3 linked regions of the Homo sapiens genome follow. The protein of the gene in region 2 interacts with the protein of the main gene of each other region in a pairwise test. Each region holds a gene or a part of one and is shown on either strand. Other genes may lie near its edges. The genes, in order: ARHGEF6, GIT1 and PAK1.

The links.
Region 1: the proteins of GIT1 (region 2) and ARHGEF6 interact in binary tests that used the Homo sapiens proteins (3 or more experiments, as listed by UniProt).
Region 3: the proteins of GIT1 (region 2) and PAK1 interact in binary tests that used the Homo sapiens proteins (3 or more experiments, as listed by UniProt).

The regions. Positions count from the first base shown.
Region 1 is NC_000023.11:136,774,255-136,778,076, forward strand, and holds part of ARHGEF6 (rho guanine nucleotide exchange factor 6), read right to left. Parts: intron 1-3,822. UniProt on the Homo sapiens protein: Acts as a RAC1 guanine nucleotide exchange factor (GEF).
Region 2 is NC_000017.11:29,583,049-29,586,870, forward strand, and holds part of GIT1 (ARF GTPase-activating protein GIT1), read right to left. Parts: intron 569-3,822; coding exon 435-568; intron 1-434. UniProt on the Homo sapiens protein: GTPase-activating protein for ADP ribosylation factor family members, including ARF1.
Region 3 is NC_000011.10:77,472,031-77,475,630, forward strand, and holds the start of PAK1 (serine/threonine-protein kinase PAK 1), read right to left. Parts: upstream 2,065-3,600; 5' UTR 1,522-2,064; exon of another isoform or gene 1,379-1,521; intron 1-1,378. UniProt on the Homo sapiens protein: Protein kinase involved in intracellular signaling pathways downstream of integrins and receptor-type kinases that plays an important role in cytoskeleton dynamics, in cell adhesion, migration, proliferation, apoptosis, mitosis, and in vesicle-mediated transport processes.

The sequences.
Region 1 (3,822 bases), on a different chromosome or scaffold from region 2:
CAGTATTCTTAGAACTGCAAAGAAGCTAAGTAAACCTTCTGGCAGCTTTAGAATGCAGAAATCATTGGCAACTTCACCATGTTTTTATTTGAAAAAAAAAAATACCATAGTATTGGCCAGGCGTGGTGGCTCATGCCTGTAATCCCAGCATTTTGGGATGCCAAGGTGGGCAGATCACTTGAGGTCAGGAGCTTGAGATCAGCCTGGCCAACATGGTGAAACTCCGTCTCTACTAAAAATACAAAAATTAGCCGGGCGTGGTGGCGCGTGCCTGTAATCCCAGCTACTTGAGAGGCTGAGGCATGAGAATTGCTTGAGCCCAGGAGGCAGAGGTTGCAGTGAGCAGAGATGACACCACTGCACTCCAGACTGGGTGACAGAGCAAAACTCTGTCTCAAAAAAAAAAAAAAAAAGGAATAAAAAAGAAAATATCATAGTATTTATTAAAGAAAAATTTAAAATTTCCTGAAGAGTCTGGACCATAATAGAAAAAAAAAAGAAAATTCCATAGTAGACATTATTCTACAAGGGATATAAAGTGGTCACCCATCACACCTACCTCAAAAGTCACACACACAGACCCACACATAAATAGAGAGAGAGAAAGAAACAGAGATTGAGAGAGAGAGTGCAAATTAGGCAATAGGGGAAAATGGAATAAAATATTCTGAAACAGATATAACCTGGTCCTAGGGCTAACTTTAGGAAAAATGGTGAAGGAAGCAAAGTTTATCTGGGGCAAAGCTACCAGCATTGCTAATAATAATATCTACCATGCAGAGAATACTTACTACATTCCGGGCACTCTTCTGGGGCCTTTACATATATGAATTCCTTGAAATGTCACATGATTCTATCAGACATTCAAAGAAAAATTGGTACCAATCCTTCTAAAACTATCCCAAAAGACAGAGAGAGATAATCCTCCCTAAATCATTCTATGAAGCCAGTATTACCCTCAAACCAAAACCAGAAACAGACATGACAAAAAAAGAAAACTACAGACCAGTACCCCTGATGAACATAGATGCAAAAATTCTCAACAAAATACTAGGTAACTGAATCCAATACCATATCAAAAAGATAATACACCATGATCAAATGGGTTTCATACCAGGGATGCAGGTTTGGTTTAACACATGCAAGTCAATAAATGTGATACACCACATAAACAGAATTAAAAACAAAAATCACATGATCATCTCAATAGATGCAGAAAAAGCATTTGACAAAATCCAGCATCCCTTTATGATTAAAACCCTCCACAAAATCAGCATGGAAGGGACATACCTTAAGGTAATAAAAGCCATCTATGACAAACCCACAGCCAACATTATATTGAACAGGGAAAAGATGAAAACATTCTTCCTGAGAACTGGAACTGGACAAGGATGCCCCCTTTCACCATTTCTGTTCAACATAGTCCTGGAAGTCCTAGCCAGAGCAATCAGACAAAAGAAAGAAATAAGGGGCATCCAAATCGGTAAAGAGGAAGTCAAACTCTCACTGTTTGCTGATGATATGATTGTATACCTAGAAAACCCTAAAGACTCATCCAAAAAGCTCCTAGATCTGAAAAATGAATTCAGTAAAGTTCAGGATACAAAATCAATATGTCAGTAACACTACTATACACCAACAGCAACCAAGCTGAGAATCAAATCAAGAACTCAACCCCTTTTACAACAGCTGCAAAAAAAATAATATACTTAGGCATATACCTAACCCAGGAGGTGAAAGATCTCTACAAGGAAAACTACAAAACACTGCTGAAAGAAATCATAGATGACACAAACAAATGGAAACACATCCCATGCTCATGGATGGGTAGAATCAATATTGTGAAAAAGACCATACTGCTAAAAACAATCTACAAATTCAACGCAATTCCCATCAAAATACCATAATAATTCTTGACAGAACTAGAAAAAACAATCCTAAAATTCATATGAAACCCAAAAAGAACACACATAGCCAAAGCAAGATTAAACAAAAAGAACAAATCTAGAGGCATCACATTACCCGACTTCAAACTATACTACAAGCCTGTAGTTACCAAAATAGCATGGTAGTGGTATAAAAATAGGCACATAAACCAATGACACAGAATAGAGAACCCAGAAATAAAGCCCAATACTTACAGCCAACTGGTCTTTGACAAAGCAAACAAAAACATAAACTGGGGAAAGGACACCCTATTCAACAAATGGTGCTGGGATATTTGGCAAGCCACATGTAGGAGAATGAACCTGGATCCTCATCTCTCACCGCATCTCTCATCTCTCACCTCTCTACAAAAATCAACTCAAGATGGACCAAGGACTTAAATCTAAGACCTGAAATCATAAAAATTCTAGAAGACAACATTGGAAAAACTCTTCTAGGTATTGGCTTTGGCAAAGAGTTCATGACCAAGAACTCAAAAACAAAGGCAACAAAAACAAAGATAAATAGATGGGACCTAATTAAACTAAAAAATTTCTGCACAGCAAAATAAATAATCAGCAGAGTAAACAGACAACTCACAATGTGGGAGAAAATATTCCCAAACTATGCATCTGACAAAGGTCTAATATCCAGAATCGACAAGGAACTCAAACAAATCAGCAAAAATAAATAAATAGATAAATAAATAAATAAATAAATAAATAAATAAATAAATAAAGTAGAAATAAAAATAAACAAATAGGCCGGGTGCGGTGGCTCACGCCTGTAATCCCAGCACTTTGGGAGACCCAGGCGGGCGGATCACCTGAGGTCAGGAGTTTGAGACCAGCCTGGCCAACATAGTGAAACCCTGTCTCTACTAACAACACAAAAATTAGCCAGGCATGGTGGCGGGCGCCTGTATTCCCAGCTACTCAGGAGGCTGAGGCAGGAGAATCGCTGGAACCAGGGAGGTAGAGGTTGCAGTGAGCCAAGATCACACCACTGCATTCCAGCTTGGGCAACAGAGTGAGACTCAGTCTCAAAAAACAAAACAAAACAAAAACAAAAAACAAATAATCCCATCAAAAAGTGGGCTAAGGACATGAATAGACAATTCTCAAAGAACATATACAAATGGCCAAGAAACATATGAAAAAATGCTCAACATCACTAAGCACTGGAAATGCAAATCAAACCACAATGAGATATCACCTCACTCCTGCAGAAATGGCCACAATTAAAAAAAAAACAAAAAATATTAGATGTTGGCATGAATGTGGTGAAAAGGAAACACTTCTACACTGCTGGTGGGAATGTAAACTAGTACAACCACTATGGAAAACCTTAAGTATGGAGATTCCTTAAAGAAGTAAAAGTAGAACTACCATTTGATCCAGTAATCCTACTACTGAGTATCTACCCAGAGGAAAAGAAGTCACTATATGAAAAGGACACTTGCACACACATATTTATAGTAGCACAATTTGCAATTGCAAAGTTATGGACCCAGCCTAAATGCCCATCAGCCAAAGAGTGGATAAAGAAAATGTAATATACATATATATAATATGTATACATACACACACACACACACACACACACACCATGGAATACTACTCAGCCATAAGAAGGAACAAAATAATGGCATTCACGACAACCTGGGTGGAGGTGGAGACCATTATTCTAAGGGAAGTAACTCAGGAATGGAAAACCAAACATCATATGTTCTCACTTATAAGGGGGAGCTAAGCTATGAGGATGCAAAGGCATAGGAATGATGTAATGGGCTCTGGGGACTCAGGGGGAAGGGTGGGAGTAGGGTGAGGGATAAAAGACTCTACATTGGGTACAGTGTACACTGCTCAAGTGATGGATGCACCAAAATCTCAGAAA
Region 2 (3,822 bases):
AGATGCCAAGTGAGAGAGTGCCCACTGCGTGCTAAGCAATGGGGGAAACACTTCCTGAGCGCCTGCTGTGGCTGGCGTAGCTGGAAACGGTACCAAGGGGGCCTACTGTGTGCCCGCACCACCACACCTCCATCTAGTCCAGCTGCCCAAAGACACAGATCCCATGAGTGTGCCAAGGCTCAGAGAGGTGAAGCAACTTGCTCAATGCTACACGACCACGTTGATAAGTGGCAGAGCAGGGGTGTGAGCTACTCTTCTGCATGAAGTGAGTAGATGGGAGGAAAGGGTCAGGATTAGCCTCTGCCCTAGGGGGGTGCTGCCCCTTGGAAGCTGCAGATTCCAGATGGGGGTGTATGTGGGTGAGGGGGAAACGCCCTCATGCTCAGCACACTCTGCCTGAGGGGAAGGAAGAACCACCCGACTGAGCCCTGTACCTGCAGCAGCGTGGGAGGCCAGGCGCTGTGGCGAAGGTGCTTGACAATGGAGATGTGGCGTCCCAGGCTCCGGTGCACGCTGCAGCACTCGTCACACACCAGCACACCCCTGCTGATGGATGCCCAGCCAGGGTCTGCCAGGGTGAGGGCAAGGGTCAGCCGGAGCCAGATGATGGGCCAGACCTCCTGAGCACCTGCTCTGGCCCGTGCCAAGCCTAGTACTCTCCACACATTCACTCACTCAGTCTCCAACAGCCTAGGAGCTGGGACCATCACTACGGCCAGGTTACCAGTGAGGGATCTCCCCAAGAGCTCACAGCTGGGGGCTGACAGAGCCATGCCCTTTCCTACATCCTTACCCCTCTGGGATATGCAGTCCCCAGGGCCCATTCAGCAGGCACAGTTTCCTGCCCTGCAGCCACTGCTACCAGTCTCTCAGCCTTTTCCCAGGAAACGAGGTCTCTGCCCCAGCCCGTCCCGAAGGGAGGAAGGGATCCCCAAGGGGATGCAACCCAGATGCTGCTGCATGCCAGATGCTGTTGAAACATGCCTGACAGATCACACCCGTCCACAGGTCCTGCCTCTGGCCTCCTGCCAGCAGGTGAGGTCCTTTCATGCTGGAGCCTCCTGCCATCATCACTGAGGGTGTAAGCTGGAGCCCTCTTAAGGAAGATGGACAGAGCAAAGGAGCTGGGCTTGACTGGGCACCCACTAGGTACCAGCTGGGTACATTATGTGTGATGCTGCTTGCAACTGTCAGGCAAGGTAGGACATGCTACCTCTGTGATGAAGAAACAGTGGCTCAGAGAGGTTAAAGGGCTTATTCAAGGATGCGAGGCTAATGAGTAGAATTGCCAGGATGTGGCACTTTCATGCCTGAGACCATGCCATGTCCACACTTGCTGCTGTCCCTCTGCCTCTATAGCCTGCTCTCCACTCTTTTGGGAAAAGTGAACTTGGGAGAAGAAGCAGGGCCAGGACTGGGTGGGAGTTCCGGGGTTCTTCTCAAGGGTGGAGGAGATGCCACCCATCCTAGGCCCCTTGGGAGACAGCTGCATACGACTCAGGCTGCGGAAAGGTCACGGGGGAGAAAGCAGCCATTGTGTGCCGCCTGAGAGTGGGGGCAGGGCGCCTCTCTCCCAGGACACTTTGCTCTGCCCAGCGGCCCCCACCCTGTCTCAGGAAACCCTGTCCTGGGGTGGGGGTGGGGGACTGGCTCTCTGCCTTGCCCTGTAGCGCTCAGGGTGTTCAGAAGTATCCCCATCAGGGGAGGGACAGGCTTAGGGGGATAAGAATCTCTCCCAACTAGAAGGCAATTCTCAGGCCTTTCCCCTCTAAGGACTTCCACCAAAGTTCCCAGGAAAATTGAGGAGACTCTGAGTCAGGGGCCCAGCCTGAGCTCTGCCCACAGCAAGTGACCCCCACTGAGGCATGAAAACAGGAAGTAAAGGAGAGAGGCCTGTCTTTGGGTTTAGGCTTTTTTTTTTTTTTTTTTTTTGAGACGGAGTCCCGCTCTGTCGCCCAGGCTGGAGTGCAGCGGGTTTAGGCTTTTTAAGGGACCCCCTCCCAATCAGGGCAACAGAGGGATGCCCAAGGTGACCGCCAACACCTTCCTGGGGGGCTGACTCCAGGGCTCAGGAGGAAGGGACCAGCCTTCTTCGCCAAGAGGGGGAGCCCTAGCATGCACTTCTGGGCTGGCTTTACCCAAATAGTGAGGCACCCCAGGTGTGGAGACCTCCCTCTCCCCACTCCAAACACCACTGGGTCAGGGGGCTGCCAGCCAGCCACCTCCAGCAGCCCAGGCAGGAAGCCGGAAATGATGCAGCCCAAATTCCTCTTGGTGGGGTTTCCTGTAAGTGGGGAGCCGCCCAGGGCAGGATCATAAATGGGCTGATCTGAGGTCTGTGGTCCTACCGGAGAAGCCAGGCATGGAAGGCTGACTATATATCCACGGCCAATGGCTCCAGAGCCCTAAGCCATGGGCAGACCAGATGTGGTGAGTGACCCTGGCTATGGCAGTAACCAAGACCAGGATGCAGGAGTGTGGTCCAAGGGTTTGCCTGGCACTTTCCCCCAGCCTGGGGGAGGGGTTCTCCTTCTCCTCCAGGTGACCTGAGAAGAATGGTAGGCAAAGGACACTGTCCTGGTCTGGGCAGCCGCTATTGGTGTCAGCTCATTTCTGGATGACACAGATGGGACGCCCACCCTAACCATTCTGTCTCCTCCCTCTGTGCAAGTGCCCTTGGGACTACCCAGATTGTAGTTTAAGGTGAAGGGATCCTTGCGTCAAGAAGCTCCTTGGACCAAACCTGGGACGGAAAGGACAGGAACTGTAAGGGAACTCGTCAGCCCTCCCCCTGCGCTTCTGGCTCCACCGGCAGGGTATGGGTCTGTATGTGTGGAGAGGTAGCAGGCGTGATCCTGGGATCACGTTAACCAGTGCCAACCCCATGGAGGCCTCTACTACGGTGAATTCCTGCCACCACCTGAAGCCATCAGTGGCCTCCAGGGCCAGTAGGTTTGCACATACAGGCTAGCCTCAGGCCTCCCTCCCCTGAGCTAAGGGCCAGATCTCCACTAGACTAAGGGAAAAGCCCACATCATGAAGGCAGGCGAGAGTAGTCCTTGGGGTAGAGTCAGAATGGTGGTTACCTCTGGGGTGCACGGACTGGGAGGGGGTACTTGGAAGCCCCCTAAGGTGATGGAAATGTTCTATAACATGCTTGTCTAACCTGCAGTCCATATGCGGCCCAGGCAGCTTTGAATGTGGCCCAACACAAATTCATAAACTTTCTTAAAACATTATGAGACTTTTTTGTGACTTTATTTTTTATTTTTATTTTTGCTTGTTTTATTTAGCTCACCAGCTATCATTAGTGTTAGCGTATTTTAGGTGTGGCCCAAGAAAATTCTTCTTCCAATGTGGCCCAGGGAAGCAAAAAGATTGGATACCCTTATTCTATAACATGATCAGAGCAGTAGTTACATGGGTATACACACATGTAAAAGCCCATCAGGATGAACACTCAGGTGCAGGCATTGACACACACAAATTCTACCTCCATAAGGGAGGAAGAGGAGCCCAACATTTGTCCCACTCTGCAATCTACACTATGAAGAGACAAATCAGCCTGTAGCTTGTCCCGTAACATGTCCCCGGCCTTGCTCACCAGAGATACCTACAGGACAGGCATCTTGAGGCCTTCACTCTCACCCCCAGGGTTGCCAAAGTGGAAAAGGCTGAGATAGAAGCCCATGGGGTGAGGAGAGGCCCTTGACTGAGATCGTGTGGCGAGGTGGGCCAAGCCTAAGGAAAGGGGAAGATGCACATTCTCCAGGGCTCCCTGCCCCCTTCCTCTCTTGGACTCCCCAGGCAGGCAGGAACACA
Region 3 (3,600 bases), on a different chromosome or scaffold from region 2:
TTTACTTGTCTACCTCACCCATTAGACTTTGAGCTCTTTGAAGACAGGGAATATCTTAATAGACTGAATCCCCATAGCCTTAGCAAGAGGCCTGAAACATAGTAGCTCTCCGAACTCCAGTAATGTTGGATAAACGAATTGACTGAATAAGCAAATTTACCAAGGTAGACCCATGAGCTCATGTAGTTAAAGAGTATGGATAAGCTTCAGGGAAAGTATGGGAAGTTTTCAGGGTCAATGTTCCCAAAACCCTTTTTGAAAGGCATAGTTTCTAGTTGAGGTGGGGAGTTTTTATATGCACCTGACTTAGAATTTTCCAAATAGGAACCAAAATGTTGTAAGTGCTGTGGTAGAAATCCCACCGGGCCAATGGGAAGAAATCAGCTCTGTCTGTAAGAGGAGAGACAGGATGGAGGCCAGCAAAGACTTCACAGTGTGGGAATTCTTCAGTGGACTCTTGAAAGCTGAGTCCGGTGCTTGCTACTTGCCCGTTTTGGGGCATAAAACCAAACTTCTGGAGCTTTTAAGGCTGGAAGTGACCTGCTCAAGGTCACACAAGAAGTAGATGAAGCCACAGGGTAAGAGAGATGAGGTATCTGTACTGATAATTCCTACTTTCTCCTGACAGAGTTGAAAGAGAACCCAAAAATGTAGGAGGCAAAATTAAAGATTGTTCTCAGGAACAATTCTTAAAGTCAAGACTAATGAATCTGAATTTTTATTAGTAACCACGGAACTAACCCTTCCCTTCACTGTTCACAGTTTTTGTAACAGTAGAACAATTATCCAAGGGGTTTAAAAACCAAGGACGTTGCTCACAACGCCACACCCACTACTTCTCAAGTATTCTTCCAAAACACTCCCAGTAATGTGTACTGCTGAAATAGGATAGCGAAGGCTACAACAATCATGTCTTTTCAAACGTAATAATGAACATAAAATAACTATAAATCTCCTTCCCCGGTTGTTTTTCACTTCCCAAGTTACAGAATATTCCGGGGTGGGGGAGGGGCTGCGTAAGTCAAGTCCTACCAGCCCTTATTTTTCAGGGAGTAGAACCCTAAAGGTGACTGTCCAAGCCTGGAAGGGGTCATTTATTCCATGCAGAAGGAACTGGGCGCCGCTTTGCTGTGCCTCCTCGTAGCGGGACAGGGTGAGCGCCGCAGGACTGCGAAGTTCGGGACGGACTCGGTCCCGGACCGGTACTCGTGTGGCCTCCCGGCTCCAGCCTGGCCTGGCCCCGCCCCGCCCCTTCCCTCTCCCAGGTCTCTCGAATCGCCCGGCGTCTGAGACCCGCGACCCCGCCGGTACGCGCACAGGGGGCCTTTGTTGGCCCGACGGGAGCGGGCCTCGCGGGGCGCCGCCCGCCTCACCTTACCTGGCGCCTCCTCCCGCCCAGGCGCCCGGCCCCGCAACGCGAAATAAATGGGCCCAGACCCCCACTCCACCCGTCCCCACCCCCGCGCCCCAGCCCTGGCAGCCCGGGACGCGAGGGGTACTGGGCGGTAGGCCCGCTCTCACCTTCCGCGCTCGCTCAGCTCCTCTCGGCTCCTCCTCCTCCTCCCGGCGGTGGGTGCCGCCTAGCCGGGAGTGAGGGCGCGAGTGTGCGCGAGCTACCGCTTCACTTTCTCCCTCCTGCCGCCGCCGCCGCGCTGCCCGTGGCGGGGCTCCCCTCAGGACAGGGGAACTGCGAGGGAAGGGATGATGGGGGGGCGGGAGGGAGCGAGGCGACGCGGGCGGGGGGGGAAGGGGGGACTGAGGGGCGAGGTGCGAAGGGCTCAGATGGCCTCTGAGGCAGGAGGTGGTAACTGGATGCGGAGACCAGGTTCCTCGAGGGGGCTCACGAAAGCGCGGGGCTCCGTGGAAAAGGGAATGAGAGTCCAAGGGGGAAGGCGTCTGTGGGGGAGGACTGCAGAGCCTGTGAGGGAAGCGCGATGGGCGAGCGAGGGGGCGGGAGCGTGTGGGGGAAGCCGTGAGGGGGCGTCTACTGTGCAGCCACCACCTTCGGCTCCGGCTGCAGCCGCGGGAGGGCAGCCTCCCCCGCCCACAGCCGCGCTATTGTACGCCGCCCGGCAGGCCTGACCGCCTAGTTCACTGGCTCCCCTACTCCTCCTCCTCCCGCCTCCTCCTCCCCTCTGCCCTTTCCCCTTCTCCCCCTCCCCCTCCCCCACTCCCCCTCCCCGGCGCGGCGGCGGCGGCTGCGGCTCCGGTGGAGCCGTGCCCGCCCCGCCTCCCGCAGGTGAGAGGGGGCGGGGAGGGCCTGACCGACCCGTGGGAGCGAGGCCAAACCCTGGCCCGCATGAGGGCGAACGCCTGGGATTACGTCATCGGCGCGTGACGCCAGAGGCTGGGGAATCACCCGCTTGCTGCGTGACGTCATCGCGTCGCGTCACTGTTCTCGGTCCGCTGTCCGTGGCGGGTTGTTTCCGTGCAGCCTTTCTATCAGACAATTTTGGGACGATTTCTGGGAGGGCTACTGTAGTAGTCAGGATGGAGAAAGACGGCTAACTTCCGGCGCTGAGGGTCCTTTTCAGGTTAACAAAGCACCACCGCATCTATGAGCTCGTTGTCAAGGGCTGAATTTGAAAACTATCCGATGTCGTGTGATCTCACAGCCAGACATGTATTATGTTTTCTTTCTGTGGGAGAGGGGGCAGGGGTGGGAGGAAGACAAAGAAATTATAACGGAGATGTTTGAACTAATGTGAACTGACATACGAAAAGAATGGGCTTCCTTTCACGTTTTTTCCCCTACCGTGGAGGGTACTTTCGACCCAAAGCTTTCTTTCTCCTGAGCTCAGATTGTGTATTTCCCAATACCTCCCGAGCAGCATTACCTGCATACTCTTCGTACCTCAGATTCAACATGTGCGAAACTGAGACAGCATTAGAAAGGCTAAGAGTCCGGAATCAGGTTGCCTTGCTTGAAATCCTAGCTATTCAAATATTAGTGATAGGACCTTGACATTTCTAAGCCGTAATTTTTCTGTAATAATAAGTAGTACCTTAACTAGGTCTTCCTAAGCCTCAGTTTTACCATGGTAATAGTAACAAGCCCTTTAGAATGTTGGCTATTATTATTATTTCCCCCCCAAAATTGCTTCTTACGTTCCTTTCCGTTCTCAATGAATGGGCCACCCATTCAACAATCCCCTAAGCCAGGAACCTAGACATACTAATAGCTCCCCGTTCTTCCTCTCTCAACATCCATATCAAGTTGGACACCAAGTCTTGTAGCTTCTCCTAAATATTTTTCAAGTCCTTGCCTGTGTCGTCTTCTACTACCACCACCTGAACAACTGGAGCAACCTTTAGTCTCTTCAAACTCAATCTATTTTTCTCACTAGTTACCTGAGTAGCCTTATAAAAGCACAAATCTGATGATGTCCTCCCGTTTAAACACCGAAAGGATTTTATTGCTTTCAGGATAAAGTTCAAACTCCTGAACTTGGCACTTTATTACCTGACTGCTTACACTAGCCTTTCTAGCTTTGTCTCACATCATTTATTTTTTGCTCCAAGCACACTGAAATATTAACGTTATTTGAATACACATTTCTTCATGTCTTCAAGCTCTTCCCTACTTAGCTGACTGGCCAA